Linked DNA regions of Homo sapiens: region 2 is linked to region 1. Evidence: fine-mapped expression QTL. Tissue or cell type: whole blood. Region 1 holds a variant in brackets; the other region holds the start of a gene. All regions are shown on one strand. Distances are between the middles of the regions.

Evidence for each region. PIP is the estimated chance that this variant, and not a neighbour inherited with it, causes the effect.
Region 2: it holds the start of DDX56, and the variant in region 1 is fine-mapped to the expression of DDX56 in whole blood (TOPMed, PIP 0.98).

The regions. Positions count from the first base shown.
Region 1 is chr7:44,619,289-44,627,391 of GRCh38, reverse strand. OGDH (oxoglutarate dehydrogenase) reads right to left here. Exons shown (of 23, transcript NM_002541.4): 2 at 2,827-3,075. The coding sequence starts at 3,048. Among named protein-coding and RNA genes, the nearest start is that of OGDH, 17 kb to the right of the region's middle. RefSeq lists a silencer at 3,210-3,269 and an enhancer at 4,428-4,737. The variant T/C (reference allele first, on the strand shown) is at 3,433.
Region 2 is chr7:44,569,562-44,577,664 of GRCh38, reverse strand. It overlaps DDX56 (DEAD-box helicase 56), which reads left to right and starts at 3,757. Exons shown (of 14, transcript NM_019082.4): 1 at 3,757-3,829; 2 at 3,921-4,082; 3 at 4,615-4,775; 4 at 4,921-5,091; 5 at 5,228-5,318; 6 at 5,929-6,173; 7 at 6,788-6,907; 8 at 7,537-7,650; 9 at 7,762-7,856. The coding sequence starts at 3,770. RefSeq lists an enhancer at 3,991-4,140.

The sequences.
Region 1 (8,103 bases):
TGCCTCTAAGGCTATGGATCCTAAACTTTCATGGGTGACAGATGCTTTGAAATTTGGACAGAAGTTATGGATTATCTCCCTTGAAAAACATGCACATGGCCAGGCGCCGTGGCTCACGCCTGTAATCCCAGCACTCTGGGAGGCCAAGGCAGGCGGATCACGAGGCCAGGAGTTCAAGACCAGCCCGACTAACATGGTGAAACCCCGTCTCTACTAAAAATACAAAAATTAGCCGGGCGTGGTGGCACAGGCCTGTAATCCCAGCTACTCAGGAGGCTGAGGCAGGAGAATCGCTTGAGCCTCGGAGGTGGAGGTTGCAGTGAGCTGAGATTGCACCACTGCACTCCAGTCTGAGCGACAGAGTGAGACTCCATCTCAAAAACAAAACAAAACAAAAAAACAAACAAACAAAAAACATGCACACACCACATACTGGGCCCAATTCAACTTAAAGAGGACCCACCTTGCCGTCTGGGATGGCAGAGGAGTGATGAAGTCCGTGCTGGATGACAACCGGGATTGCTGGAGGGCACGCCCACTTTTAACCATCCTGTCCCCTCCCCTCTACAAGCAGGGAGGGGCAGAGCATGCATGTGATTCCCACACTGTGCCCCCTGGAGACTCCCAGCAACAGAAACAGGCATAAAGACATAAAGCCACCATGCCCCCACAAAAACCATCTTCAAAAGCTTCCAGCAGGAGCAGCTATGATGGCAACAGGCCCAGTGTCCACAGCACTGTGGCCACACTGCTCACAGAGTGCACCTTTTACCCATGAATCACTGAGGACCAAACCTTCACAAGGACATGCAGTCTCAGCCAGGTGCTCTTTACCTTTCAGACACTAGGCACTGTCATTTAGGAGCTACTGACTCCAAATCCTAACATCACTGAAAACAACTTGGTTGGTTCCAAGAAAAGGTTATGTTTGAGAAAAGGAAGGCAAAAGAATAGGCCTGGGCACATAATAGTCCTTGATTCTGAAACCTCAGGGCTCAGTTTTATTCTAGATATAATCTGCAGGTGTAGGGGTGTGTGTGTGTGTGTGTGTGTGTAGGGGTGTGTGTGTGTGTGTGTGTGTGTGTAGGGGTGTGTGTGTGTGAAATCTGCCACAATCTGCAACCACAGTCTTCAGTAACATCCATGATATCACATCAAAAGCAGGGGCCAGTTTCACAGAGCACTTCTTCTGGGCAATTTGTTTACAGACTAGGGAAATAAACTACAGATTTCTTACAGAAAACCAGGTCTCACCTTGCCCAGTAAGCAAGGCTGCTCCCAGGTTGCCATGGAAACAGGGAAGGACTGGGCTAGATCTGGGCAATAAGGCTGAGACAAAGTGGCATTCCTGAAAAAATGGGACCTGGTGGCCCAGCAGTCATGGGAATATACCCGCCCCCCACCTTCTTTTAAATTTTAGAGACAGGGTCTCCCTCTGTTGCCCAGGATGGAGTGCAGTGGCACCATCACAGCGCACTGTAACCTCGAATTCCTGGGCTTCAGCAATCCTCCCACCTCAGCCTGTGGAGTAGCTAGAACTGCAGGCATGTGCCACCACACCTAGCTAAATTAAAAAAAAAAATTCGTAAGTGTCACTAATACTTAAAGGGAAAGCTTGTTTACAGGAGCCCAGTGGAAGCAGACTTCCTTTTGGTGATAAGCCCCCAAGATTCAAGAGTAGGAAAAAAGCCAAATTCACAGTGAAGATAAGCAATGTTGGCTAGGCACTGCCTCCGAGCTGAGTGCCCTGCTCATGCTACCTCCTTTCATTCTCTCAACCACCTACAGATGAGGCACAGGAGCTTAGAAACGCTGGGACCTACCCTCTTATTACTATACTACACTGTCTTCCCAATTCCTTCAGGAGGCTGGCTGCTTTCCCTGAAAATCAAGGAATGGTTATCAAAACCTATAAATATTTATTGGCTCAAAACAGAATAAAGGAATTCTGTCACAAGGCATGACATGGCCAGGCGTGGTTGATCATACCTGTAATCCCAGCACTTTGGGAGGCCAAGGTGGGTGGATCACTTGAGGCCAGGGGTTCAAGACCAGCCTGGCCAACAAAGTAAAATCCCATCTCTACTAAAAATACAAAAACTAGTCAGGCGTGGTGACGTGCACCTGTAGTCCCAGTTACTCGGGAGGCTGAGGCATAAGAATCACTTGAACCCAGGAGTCGGAGGTTGCAGCAAGCCGAGATCCCGCCACTGCACTCCAGCCTGGACAACAGTGGGACTCTGTCTGAAACAAAACAAAACAAACAAAAACAAAAACAAACCAAAAAAAACAAGACATGACTTACATCAGTAATCATGTGGTGAAAAGTTTAGAAAATGCCCTTATATGTAATACAGAGAAGTTAGAAACAAACAGGAAAAAAATACGAACATAATGAGCTAAAAGGCCATTCATACAGAAATTACATGAGGTGACTACGGCATGTTACAAATGAAAGTATCCTCTCCAGACAGTTAGAATGGAGGAGCTTCCTGAGGTCCTGCTCTTTTCCACACACTTTCTTTCTTTCTTCTTTCTTCAGCGGCTTCATCCTGAAGCAGCCCTTGCGGAGATGCTGGAGGGTCACACACATGCTTCTTCACATCCTCGCAGAGTTAAGCACAGTGTCTACTGCTGGACGCCAATCCAGGGACCATGGCTTCTGCTGGGGCTATGCTGGGTCCGATACAGATACGGTGGTTGGTATGGCGCTCCAGCTGCCTGTCTGCCCGCTGACTCCTCAGGACGCACACACTTACCTGGTGACCAGTCAGGAACAGGCCAACACACCAACATGAGGCAGACCCACAGCCCTGCGAGCCTTACCTTATGTACACTTTTGGGGTTTTCCAGCCAAGCACAGTACATCTCCTCCACATAGTTCGAACTAGTCCCACTGAGAAAGGGCTCAGCAGCAACAGGTGCAGAATAGCACCGAATCTGTTGAAATGTCCTAGCTGCTGCTGGTCTGTTTTGTGAAAATGTCTTAACAGTCTGGGAAGCCGTCAATGGCCTCAACTTAGCAGCACAAGTCCTTAAATGAAACATTTTTGTCCTGAAGTTTTTCACAACTGCCTGTACAAAAAAAAAAAAAAAAAAACAAGAAAGAAAGGTTTTAAAAATGAGTATTTAGGAGACAAGGCTACTAGATCCTGATGCTCTAGAGAAAGGATAATTTTTTTTTAAAAGCTACTAGAAAAACAAAAACAAAAACAAAACATGTTCAACTCTAATTGTTGAGGAGAAAGACCCTGGCCTATAAATGTATTCACAAGAGTGCTACCTGCTCAGTGCCACCAGTTCATGTGCCTGAGAGCACAACAGAGCTGTGACTGTGTGAAACTGAAACACACTCTTGCACCTACTAACACAGGATGCCTGTGCGAGCCCAAGGAAGGTGAGTGCACAGTTGCAGATATTACCATCTTCACT[T/C]AAAAATTTAAATCTAGGCCAGACTCGGTGGCTCACACCTGTAATCCCAGCACTTTGGGAGGCCAAGGCGGGTGGATCACGAGGTCAGGAGATCAAGACCATCCTGGCCAACATGGTGAAACCACATCTCTACTAAAAATACAAAAATTAGCTGGGTGTGGTGGTGCATGCCTGTAGACCCAGATACTTGGGAGGCTGAGGCAGGAGAATTGCTTGAACCTGGTAGGTGGAGGCTGCAGTGAGCCGAGATTGCACCACTGCACTCCAGCCTAGCAACAGAGTGAGACTCTGTCTCAAAACAAAACAAAACAAAAAACCATTAAATCTAGTTTAAGGGCTAAGATGATAAACATACGATGTTCTTTAAATTTACATATTACATATATATAAAACAATTAGAAGAAAGGCAACAAGGATTAATTAATTTAGAATTAGGATTAGGATTAATTGGAGAATAAGTAAAACATTTTCTAATCTGTCCAGAAACTACTGAGTACCTGCTGTACTTACAATATTATGGAAAATACAAAGAAATTAGAAAAATACTTTCCTTACTCTCAATTTACCCTTGAGCAGAGGAAAAACAACATAGAAAAGATTGCAGAGGAAATATGAGTACTTGAGAGGTGCAGAATATGCCAGCAGACCCTGTGAGAGGATGGGCTCCTTCCAAGTGGGTGTGCCTGAAGACAAAAGGACATGGATGGGAAGGAGGGAAGACGAGGCACTGCATGTGGAAGGACCCATAGGCAGAAACACAGAGACGGGAAGAGCCAGAATCTCATGGTACTACGAAGGGTAAGGAAAAGCCACAGAGGGTTGTCCAGTGTCCTGCCTGCCACCTTCTGCACTCAGCCCCCTTTCATAAGCCATGGGGAGCCAGGTCTGAGCAAGGGAGACGTGGGTGGGGTCTGCAAAGATTGAAAAGAGCACATGGAGCAGTTGTTCAATAATGCCTGCCTACCCTGGGCCCTCCATGGTGAGCAACTCTACGCATCTGACTCATACATAAACCCAGAGGCTCCCAATAAGGCAGGCACCAGCTCTTTCACTTTACAGATAGCTTCAGTTTCTATTCCCTTACATTTCATCCAAGGTCATAGGCTACTAACAGCAGAGTCAGGATCCAAGCGGAAAGTTCACAAGGACGCTGCCTGTGGAAAAAAAGGTGCTTGCTGGCCTACATGGTTGCTCATGAATTTGTCTCAAAGCAGGTGCTCTGGTTGTAAAGTTAGAACTACACTCCATGTCCACACCTACCCGAAGAAAATCCAAGCTCTGAAACATAGTGTGAATTACCCAGAAATAACTGTTACATAAAAATATCTTCTATATTATTTATCAGAAACTTCCTCTTGGCCCAAATATGCTCAGAATACACTTAAGGGACACCAAGAGAGAGGGCTTAGAGTGTCCTGCATTCACCTCTGGCCTGCTCCACTGAGAAGAGATAGGTCAGCAAAAGTAAACAGCAGAACATATTCTTTAAAAACAAACTGAACAACAAACAAAAACTTGCTCCTTACAAATTAAAGGTAAACAAGCAATATATTCTGGATATAATTAGGGAATGCAATCTTTACCCCTGGGTTTTCACTTTAGAAATCAAAAGTTTTAAGTTAATTCGGTAGTTCTTCCTACCTCCAACTACACTCCAAGTTTTTCCACTGATATATTTAAGGAAGACAAACAGCCCTAACATTGACAGCAAAAATACTACTGTTGCTTCATTTTATGCTATTTTTTTTTTAATTTCTCAGGCTCAAAGGAAAATGTTCATTTTTTTCCTTTAATGTCATTATTAAGGCAATATTAAATACCCAATTGCCTCTGAGTTGGGTTTTCTCCCAGAAAACAATAGCATCACCTCATTAACTATCAGTATTCAGTTGCTGCAATAGCCCAATTAACAGGCACTGAACTGACAATCGTAAAACACCAATTTCATCTGTTCTTCCCAAAGTGGCCCCTTCCACATGATCCTGTTTAAGTAAATCATGACATTTTGCTATCCGCAGTCACTGAATCTGACACATAGTTAAGTGCTGCCCAGCAGAGCTGCCACAACAGCTGGAGATTTTTTTTTTTTGATACGGAGTCTTGCTCTGTAGTCCAGGCTGGAGTGCAGTGGTGTGATCTCGGCTCAGTGCAACCTCCCATCCCAGGTTCAAGCAATTCCCCTGCCTCAGCCTCCCGAGTAGCTAGGACTACAGGTGCATGCCATCACACCTGGTTAATTTTTGTATTTTTAGTAGAGACAGGGTTTCATTATGTTGGCCAGGCTGGTCTCAAACTCCTGACCTCATGATCTGCCCACCTCAGCCTCCCAAAGTGCTGGTATTACAGGCGTGAGCCACCACACCCAGCTGAGATTTTTAAACTTCCCTTAAGATGACTCACGGGAAGAGCTGCCCTTCAGCAGATGGCTCAACATCCCCAACTCCACCCAGGAACGGCCAGGACAGCTATTTGCTGTCCACACTTTGACAGAACGACAGAGCCAACACTAACGCACATTTCTAATTCTGGTAAATACCCATTCTTCACCTTTCTCTCTTACATAAAACGGCATAAGAAGATATTAAAAGCCAAGCACGGTGGCTCATGCCTATAATCCTAGCACTTTGGGGTGCCAAGGCTTAAGGATTGTTTGAGGCCAGGAGTTTGAGACCAGCCCGGGCAACATAGTGAAACCACATCTCCACAAAAAATTTAAAAGCTATCAGGGTGTGGTGGCACATGTCTGTAGTACCAGCTACCCCGGAGGCTGAGGTGGAAGGATAGCCTGAGCCCAGGAGGTCAAGGCTTCAGTAAGCTATGATCGTGCCACTCCACTCCAGCCTGGGTGACAGAGCGAGACCCTATCTCTAAAAACAAACAAACAAACAAAATATATTAAATACAAAAAGAAGGAAAACTGCCAGCCAGTCAACATTAGGTCTTGAAATTCAACTTAGAATTCTGTAACTGACACTAAGTCAACTTTAAGAATAGTACGTTATTTGGTAGAGACATTCAATTGTTTAAACAATTTTTGTGAAAGCTCCTCTGAGCTGTCCAAAATATCCAAGTGTTTTGATTTTTGGTTTAAAACAGGGATGTCCAATATTTTGGCTTCCCTGGGCCACATTGGAAGAATTGTCTAGGGCCACACATAAAATACACTAACACTAACGACAGCTGATGAGCTTTAAAAAAAAAAAAATCGCAAAAACATCTCATAATGTTTTAACAAAGTTTACAAACTTGTGTTGGGCCACATTCAAAGCTGTCCTGGGCCACATGTGGCCCACGGGCTGGGAGTTGGACAAGCTTGCTTTAAAAGAATATTTCTATTTAAATGGGTGCCAACTCCATTCAGCAGGGAAAAGAACAGTCTTTTCAACTGAAGGTGCTGGGACAACTAGAGTTCCACGTCTAAAGAGGAATGAAGTTGCATAGACATATACAAACAAAATTCAAAATGGATCAAAGACCTGAATGTAAGAGACAAAACTATAAGATACTTAGAAGTTTTATAACTTCCATGAAGTAAATCTTTGTAACCTTGATTCAAGCAATGTATTCTTAGTTATGACACCACAAGTATAAACAACAAAATAAAAACCACAAATTGGATTTCATCAAAATAAAAAATCTGGCCAGGAGCGGTAGCTCACGCCTGTAATCTCAGTGCTTTAGGAGGCTGAGGCAGGCGGATCACTTGAGGTCAGGGGTTCGAGACCAGCCTAGCTAACATGGCGAAACGCCGTTTCTACTAAAAATACAAAAATTAGCTGGGCATGGTCATGCATGCCTGTAGTCCCAGCTGCTTGGGAGGCTGAGACAGGAGAATCCCTTGAACCCAGGAGACAGAGGTTGCAGTGAGCTGAGATCGCACCACCGCACTCCAGCCTGAGTGACAGAGCGAGACTCTGTCTCAAAACAAAACAAAACAAAAAATTTTTGTGCTTCAAAGAACTTATTAAGAAAGAAATGATATAGATGGGAGAAAATATTTGCAATTATCTGATAAGGAACTTATATACAGAATATATAAAGAACTCTCATAATGCAACAGTAAAAAGACAACCCAATCAAAAAATAGGTAAAGGATTTGAATAGATATTTGTCCAAAGAAGATATACTAACAGCCAATAAACACATAAAGTCACCATATAACACAGCAATTACACTCCTAGATATATAATCAAGAGAAATGAAAATGTATGTCCACAAAAAAAACTTGTACACAAATGCTCATAGCAGCATTATTGTTGCTATGAGCAACAACAGTTGAAACAGTAGAAACAACAGTAGAAACAACTCAAATGTCCATCACTGACGAATGGATAAGCAAAACGTGTTATATCTATAGAATATAACAGCATTCTGCAATGAAACTAAGGAAGTGCTGGTGCATGCTCCAACCTGGAGGAACCTTGAAAACATTATGCTCAGTAAAAAGCAGCAGACGCAAAAGACATATTATGAGTCTATTCCTCTGCTCTCACACAACAACCAACACAGAAGATTTCTGTGACTAAATGTGTGGGGAATTCTCCCTACCAATAAGCAATTCAATTCTGCTGCTACCTACCTGGAGACAGCATCAGATACCACAGGTCAAGGGCTCAATCCCACAAGGCTGCCTCCTACTTCCGATGTCAATCGCAAGCCCCCAGTTGTCTT
Region 2 (8,103 bases), 50 kb after region 1:
ACACCCGGCTAATTTTTGTATTTTTATTTTATCTTATTCATTTATTTATTTTTGAGATGGAGTCTCACTCTGTCGCCCAGGCTGGAGTGCAGTGGTGCAATCTTGGCTCACTGCAACCTCCACCTCCTGAGTTCAAGAGATTCTCCTGCCTCAGACTCCCGAGTAGCTGGGATTATAGGCGCCCGCCACCATGCCCAGCTAATTTTTGTATTTTTAGTAGAGACAGGGTTTCACCATGTTGACCAGGCTGGTCTTGAATTCCTGACCGCAGGTGACCCGTCTCGCCTCCCAAAGTGCTGGGATTACAGGTGTGAGCTGGCCGGGCACAGGTGATGGGGTCTTGCTCTGTCCCCAAGGCTGGAGTGCAGTGGTGCCATCACAGCTCAAAGCAACCTTGAGCTCCCAGGTTCAAGTGATCCTCCTACCTTACCCTCCCAAGTAGCTGGTACTACAGGTATACTCCACTGTGCCTGGCTATTTTTACTCTTAAAAATACATGTGGGCTGGGCACGGTGGCTCACGCCTGTAATCCTAGCACTTTGGGAAGCCAAGGTGGGTGGATCCCTATAGCCCAGGAGTTCGAGACCAGCCTGGGCAACATGGCGAAATCTTGTCTCTGCAAAAAATACAAAAAATTTAGCTGGTGGCACATGCCTATAGTCCCAGCTACTTGAGAGGCTGAGGTGGAAAGATCACTTGAGCCCGGGAGGTCAAGGCTGCGGTGAGCCATGATCGTGCCACTGCACTCCAGTCTGGGCAACAGTGATCCCATCTGAAAAAAAAAAACAAAAAAAAAAATGCAATTTAGGGCCAGGTGGGGTGGCTCACGCCTATAATCCCAGCACTTTGGGAGGCCAAGGCAGGGGGATCGCCTGAGGTCAGCAGTTTGAGACCAGGCTGGCCAACATGGTGAAAACCCCTCTCTACTAAAAGTATAAAAATTAGCCAGGCATGGTAGTGTGTGCCTGTAATCCCAGCTATTCAGGAAGCTAAGGCAGGAGAATCGCTTGAACCCGGGAGGAGGTTGCAGTGAGCAGAAATCGAGCCACTGCACTCCAGCCTGGGGGGCAGAGGGAGACTCTGTCTCAGAAAAAAAAAAAAAAATGCAATTTAGTTCTCTAGGCTTTTCCATTTAATAGTTTTATATCCTCCTGTTTCTAAATCTGGATGACAGTGTAACACTCCAGTAAGGTGAATTGTGAATTGCTGAAATTCTTCAGATGTTTAAAAGAGTTTTCAGTATTCCTCATGTTAGAATTAATGCAGAGAAAAATTTTATCCTTTGAACTAGTTACATGTTGTGGACTTCTGGCCTGAGGCTCTTGGGGATTATGTGACATATTGGGAAGGGACACATTTCTGCTCTGTGGCTGTTACTAGAAATCTAGCCAGCAAATCAGACTACGTTTGTGAGAAGACAGGAAGGCACAGATTAGGGTTGAGCCAGCCTTCAACAGGTTTGGCTGGCAGTAGACACAGTGGAGCACATCTTAACTATTTTGGTAGGTCCTGGGTTTCTCTTGGTAGTTTTTGATAGAAAGGGGAATGGTGTGAGGAAAAAGTGGGCATACATTTCACCTTTCCACTGATAAGGCAGGTGGAATTGGGATAGTCAGTGGATGGGCCAATAGCTGGTGGCTGTGAGAAGAATAAGGATTTCCATACTGGTGTGTCATATTTACAGATAGGTTGTGACCTAAAAAGTTTTTTAAAAAACAGCAGTTAGGGCCTGGGCGCGGTGGCTCACGCCTGTAATCCCAGCACTTTGGGAGGCCGAGGCGGGCGGATCACAAGGTCAGGAGATCGAGACCATCCTGGCTAACAACGGTGAAACCCTGTCTCTACTAAAAATACAAAAAATTAGCCGGGCGTGGTGGCAGGTGCCTGTAGTCCCAGCTACTCGGGAGGCTGAGGCAAGAGAATGGCGTGAACTCGGGAGGTGGAGCTTGCAGTGAGCTGAGATCATGCCACTGCACTCCAGCCTGGGCGACAGAGTGAGACTCCTTCTAAAAAACAAAAACAAAACCAAAACAGTAGTTAGGGTACACACACACAAATTCTAGTGATTTTCCCCCCAATACTACCCTTGACTTTTGAAATTCTTGCTTTCTCAGAGTTTACAACATCCTTACCAAACAGCCTTCTCCCTCCTTACCACAAAAAAAGAAAAAAAAGTTCTGGGGTTGAGGGGACACTCCATTCTTAACATCCTCTATTATCCCAGCCCAATTCCCCAGCTCTCACTGGGACTAGTTGTACCTATCTTCATCATTTGGTCCCAGCATGACTACCTGTTGGTGCATGAGCTGATCTCTCCTAACCTAACAGCCAGATGCTAGTCTCTGGTACTCAGATGCTGGGCTGCATCAGATAGGATGCACAGGATCATCCTGGAAGCTTGTTGACATAGATTCCTGTGCAACACTCAGATATAGTCTTAATGTAGATTTGTGTTGGGTGGTATGGTAGGTAGAATAATGGCCTACCACTCTGAAACATATGAATATGTTACCTAACATGACAGAAGAGAATTAAGTTGCTAATCAGATGACTGTAAAATAAATTATCCTGGATCATCTGGATGGGCCTAATGTAATCACAAAGGTTGTTTCCTTGCCTTTTCCAGCTTGGCTCTGGCTCCCTTCCTCCAGCAAGGGTGGGTTGAGCTCTCACATGGCACCACTTTGACCTCTTCTGCTTCCCTCTTCTACACTGAAAGACTTATGGGCCAGGAGCAGTGGCTCGCACCTGCAATCCCAGCACTTTGGGAGGCCGAGGAAGGCAGATCGCTTGGCCCCAGGAGTTCAAAACCGTCCTGGGCAACGTGGCGAAACCCCATCTAGAAAGAAAAGAAGAGAAGGGGAGGGGGGAGGGGAGGAGGAGTTACATATATACACATACACACACACACACACGTACGTACATACATACATACACGCTAACTGGACGTGGTGGTGCGTGCCTGTAGTCTTAGCTTTCCAGGAGACTGAGGTGGGAGGACCACTTGAGCCTGAGATCGCGCCAGCCTGGGTGACAGTCAGACCATGTCTCAAAAAAAAAAAAAGATTTGTGATTAGGATTCTTAGTCCTCACCTGTATTATTTTCCTATTGCTACTGTAACAAATTACCACAAATTTACTGGCTTAAAACGACGCAAGTCTGTAGGTCAGAAGTCTGACACGGGTCTTAACTGGTGACCCGAGTCAGATTTGGGACACAAAGAACAGAAACCAAGCTGTGCAGGTTTCTGACAGGCAGTCCGGTTAGGGAGCCCTACAGCAACCCGCCGGTCCTCTCTCTCAGGCAGTTGCTGCCATGGCTCATTATTCCAACCGGTTCTCCTCAGCCCAGTCTATCTCAGTGGCTCCATTCATAGGGTGATGTGCCCGGCGGGACACTAACCCTAACCAAGCAGAGAGACGGTCATGCCCGTCACGACCTCGGCCCTCGCCCCGGCCGAGGCTTCTCCTGCAGGTCGCGAGAATCAGGTGCGTCAGCGGCGTCCGGGAACGCCGGAAGAGCCAGTGGAGCGGCTCTGTAGTCCAAAGTACCCCGTCGACCCCAGCACGGCCGCTCCACCGCCTCCTACTAGACCCAGTCCTAGGGACTGCGCAGTCGCAGAGCTCCGTCCGAGTACCGGAAGCCTAGGCCGCCAGCACTTCCGGGAAGTGACTTCGTCTCCGAAGCCGATTGGTTGTTGCTTTGCTCCCGCTCGCGTCGGTGGCGTTTTTCCTGCAGCGCGTGCGTGCTGCGCTACTGAGCAGCGCCATGGAGGACTCTGAAGCACTGGGCTTCGAACACATGGGCCTCGATCCCCGGCTCCTTCAGGTACACGCGAGGGCTGGGGAGCCGGCTTACGGGCTCTGCGGGGCGCGCCATCGCTCTTCACGCCGCTTAAACCGCACTCCTGGTCTCCTAGGCTGTCACCGATCTGGGCTGGTCGCGACCTACGCTGATCCAGGAGAAGGCCATCCCACTGGCCCTAGAAGGGAAGGACCTCCTGGCTCGGGCCCGCACGGGCTCCGGGAAGACGGCCGCTTATGCTATTCCGATGCTGCAGCTGTTGCTCCATAGGAAGGCGGTGGGTAACGAGAGAGCTGAGGGGAGGAAGGAGGCAAGCTCCAAAAGCCTGGGAAGGGCGGTTCCCGTTTGTCTGAGGTTTTCTCTTGGCCCTGTACCCGTGCAGGCCGGCCTGAGAACCTGGTGCTGTTGTGGCAAACACTCTGGGCTGGAGTTCAGGTTACCTGGATCCTTGTCCGGCCCTGCTACCACCAACCTTTGCGTAATCTTCGACAAAGCACTTTCTTTTCTTTCTTACATAAAAAGGGAGCACATCTATCTTTTCTACTTACAGAATTATTGTGAGAATTTAGCTTCATAACTAGTATATTTAAAGTAGCTTCATAAACATCAGAGTACGTTATTCTTTTTGAGGGTCAGTGCCTGGGGAAAGAACTCTCCACTCTGCATTCTGAGGCGGGCAGAGTGATAGATGATCAAAGTACTGCTAAGTAGTGTTGCAGCAGATGGGTCAGGTAGGCTGGAAGGGGTAGAGACACGTGGACACAGTGATGTGCACTGCTGGCTAAAGTCTTTAATTCATATTCTTACAGACAGGTCCGGTGGTAGAACAGGCAGTGAGAGGCCTTGTTCTTGTTCCTACCAAGGAGCTGGCACGGCAAGCACAGTCCATGATTCAGCAGCTGGCTACCTACTGTGCTCGGGATGTCCGAGTGGCCAATGTCTCAGCTGCTGAAGACTCAGTCTCTCAGAGGTGGGTAAAAGCAGCAAAGCTGTACCTGAATGAAGCTACACAGTGTTGTGGGGTTGGGTTTGTGTGTGGCAAAAAAGAGAGCAAATCCAGGGTGAGATCCCAGCTGCTACATTCTGCCTGATACTGATGTCTTGTCCACCTCCAGAGCTGTGCTGATGGAGAAGCCAGATGTGGTAGTAGGGACCCCATCTCGCATATTAAGCCACTTGCAGCAAGACAGCCTGAAACTTCGTGACTCCCTGGAGCTTTTGGTGGTGGACGAAGCTGACCTTCTTTTTTCCTTTGGCTTTGAAGAAGAGCTCAAGAGTCTCCTCTGGTAAGGCAGAGGTGGGTGTGATTCCTAGTGGAAACATCTGTGAGTAGGAGTTGGGACGAGAGCGGGGTGGCTGGAAGCCAGTTACTACAATTAGCGGCCCTTGGAGCTGGAATCTGATTGGATTCTTTCATTTCAGTCACTTGCCCCGGATTTACCAGGCTTTTCTCATGTCAGCTACTTTTAACGAGGACGTACAAGCACTCAAGGAGCTGATATTACATAACCCGGTAAGAGGCACCATGGAAGTGTCTGGAGCTGCAGACATGGGGGCACTCAAAGATCTTGATGCTCCTTCTTAGGGGATTCTTTGGTGTTTTGGGTGGGACAGTTGTCACTTAGTGTCTCATCCCTGGTCCTGAGGCACTAAAAGCCAGTGGTCTAAAATCACTATATATTTCCAAGTGTCCACAAGGGATGTCTCCCATTTCAGGCCATGCTTTGCCTAAAATCCTGAGCAAGGACCTCCCCTAAGGGGCAGCTTTGAGCAGCAGAGCCAAAATTCTAAGGCCAAGGTTCTCATCTTAAGTAAACTTTACCTTTCAGAAGGCCTGTTGCTGTAGGCCTTCCCTTCTCAATGTAGTCCTTTATTGATGTGTTTCTCTTTGTTCTGTGCTTGGAAGTATTTTATATATGGTTTATATGGTATACTCTATATACCACAACAATAAGGGCATTTTGGGGTTTTAGGTTACAAAACTGGAGGAGAGTTAGGGTGCCAGGAATCCTTAAATGCATCTCTGCCCTGCACTAAAATGTTGATGCTTTGGTTGGTGAGTAAGTGGCCATACATCTCTGTGTTCTTTTCCTTTCTGACCACAGGCCTGTTTTCTCCCCCAGGTTACCCTTAAGTTACAGGAGTCCCAGCTGCCTGGGCCAGACCAGTTACAGCAGTTTCAGGTGGTCTGTGAGACTGAGGAAGACAAATTCCTCCTGCTGTATGCCCTGCTCAAGCTGTCATTGATTCGGGGCAAGTCTCTGCTCTTTGTCAACACTCTAGAACGGAGTTACCGGCTACGCCTGTTCTTGGAACAGTTCAGCATCCCCACCTGTGTGCTCAATGGAGAGCTTCCACTGCGCTCCAGGTCTGCCACAGCCAACATCTTGGTTGAAATAAGTTGAAGATAGAGATGGAAAGGGGACCCAGTTAATGTTCTGTTTCTTAAGCACTTAGTAGGGGCCAGGTTCTAGATGTGACTGATACTGACTTCTCCCAACTCCAAAATACCTATCATGGCCGGGCACCATGGCTTATGCCTGCTGTAATCTCAGCACTTTGGGAGGCCGAGGTGGGCGGATCGCCTGAGGTCGGGAGTTCAAGACCAGCCTGGCCAGCATGGTGAAACCCCGTCTCTACTAAAAATACAAAAATTAGCTGGACATGGTGGCAGGCACCTGTAATCCCAGCTACTCAGGAAGCTGAGATAGGAGAATTGCTTGAGCCCGGGAGGTGGAGGTTGCAGTGAGCCAAGATCGTGCCATTGCACTCCAGCCTGGGCAACAGGAGTGAAACTCTGTCTCAAAAAAACAAAACCCTATAATTATTTCCAGCTGAGGAAACTGAGGCACAATGATTAAGTAGGGAAAGAGATTAAGAAGAGGAAAAAGGAAAGGGTGATGGTTACTGTGATACTAGGGATGGCAGAGGGGCCTTGAGCTTGCTCTGCTGAGCTGATTCTCTGTCCGCTCTTGGCTGCAGGTGCCACATCATCTCACAGTTCAACCAAGGCTTCTACGACTGTGTCATAGCAACTGATGCTGAAGTCCTGGGGGCCCCAGTCAAGGGCAAGCGTCGGGGCCGAGGGCCCAAAGGGGACAAGTGAGTCCATGCCTCTTTTTCCATCCCTCCCCAGAAATGCCTGTGTTTTTAGCTTTTTGGAAGACTAAAACCAGAGTGCACAGAGCAGGGAGCCAAACCTTCCAGGCCTGGCTGGTAGTGTAGCCCAGAGAGCCCCACAGGTTCTTGCTCAGCTGCCTGGATATAGAGAAGGGAGTGGATGGTGCACACTGCACATGCACCACGAAGGGCAAAACTGCCGGGGTTGTTGGCATGCAGAGCCCTGCAGGGGAGATGGCCCATCCTGCATTGGTGGTATGGCTGTGACTTGCAGGGAGCATATTTCTGAAGGGAAAAGGAACCCCCCAACTCTCCAGTCTCTGTCCAGCTGAAGGCTTGACTAGCTCAGAGTTGGTTTTCAGATCACCATGTAGGGCAATGAGTTCTGCTGTTGTCCCAGAACAGAGGTCAGGCCGAGATTTGGGTACATGTCAAAGCTCCAGGCTGCCCCAGGAAACCCTGACTCCTGGAACGGTTCCATTGTTGGAGAGTCCTCTGTATGTCAGGGTCTTATGATCTACAGGCATTTAGAGGAAGTTTTGCTGATTCAGCGTGTGAATACGTGCCCAGAGGAGAGGAAGGGTCCGGCTGACATTGAGTTATCTCTGCAGGGCCTCTGATCCGGAAGCAGGTGTGGCCCGGGGCATAGACTTCCACCATGTGTCTGCTGTGCTCAACTTTGATCTTCCCCCAACCCCTGAGGCCTACATCCATCGAGCTGGCAGGTAGTAGTGTGACGGCCCAGGCATCTGCATGGTAGGCACACTGAGGGACTTGGGGTGTGCTGGACAGAGCCTGCGGGTTGGAGATGCAAGCTGCACTGTCTTCCCTTGCAGGACAGCACGCGCTAACAACCCAGGCATAGTCTTAACCTTTGTGCTTCCCACGGAGCAGTTCCACTTAGGCAAGATTGAGGAGCTTCTCAGTGGAGGTAAGAGCCTGGCTCTTGTGGTCCTGGGCCAGGGTCAGGCTTCTTCCACAATGCTTTAAAACTCCATGATAATGATGACAGAGGTCACAACATAGTGTGACAGGCCACTTCCACCATCCATCCTTGTTCTGCCCTGAGTGGCAGGCACTGTCCCCCTTGAGAGATAAACAAATTGAGGTAATTTGTCCAAAGTTGTGTTTACTGTCTGCCTCATGAGCGTTGAGTGACCTGACAGGCTGCTGTGACA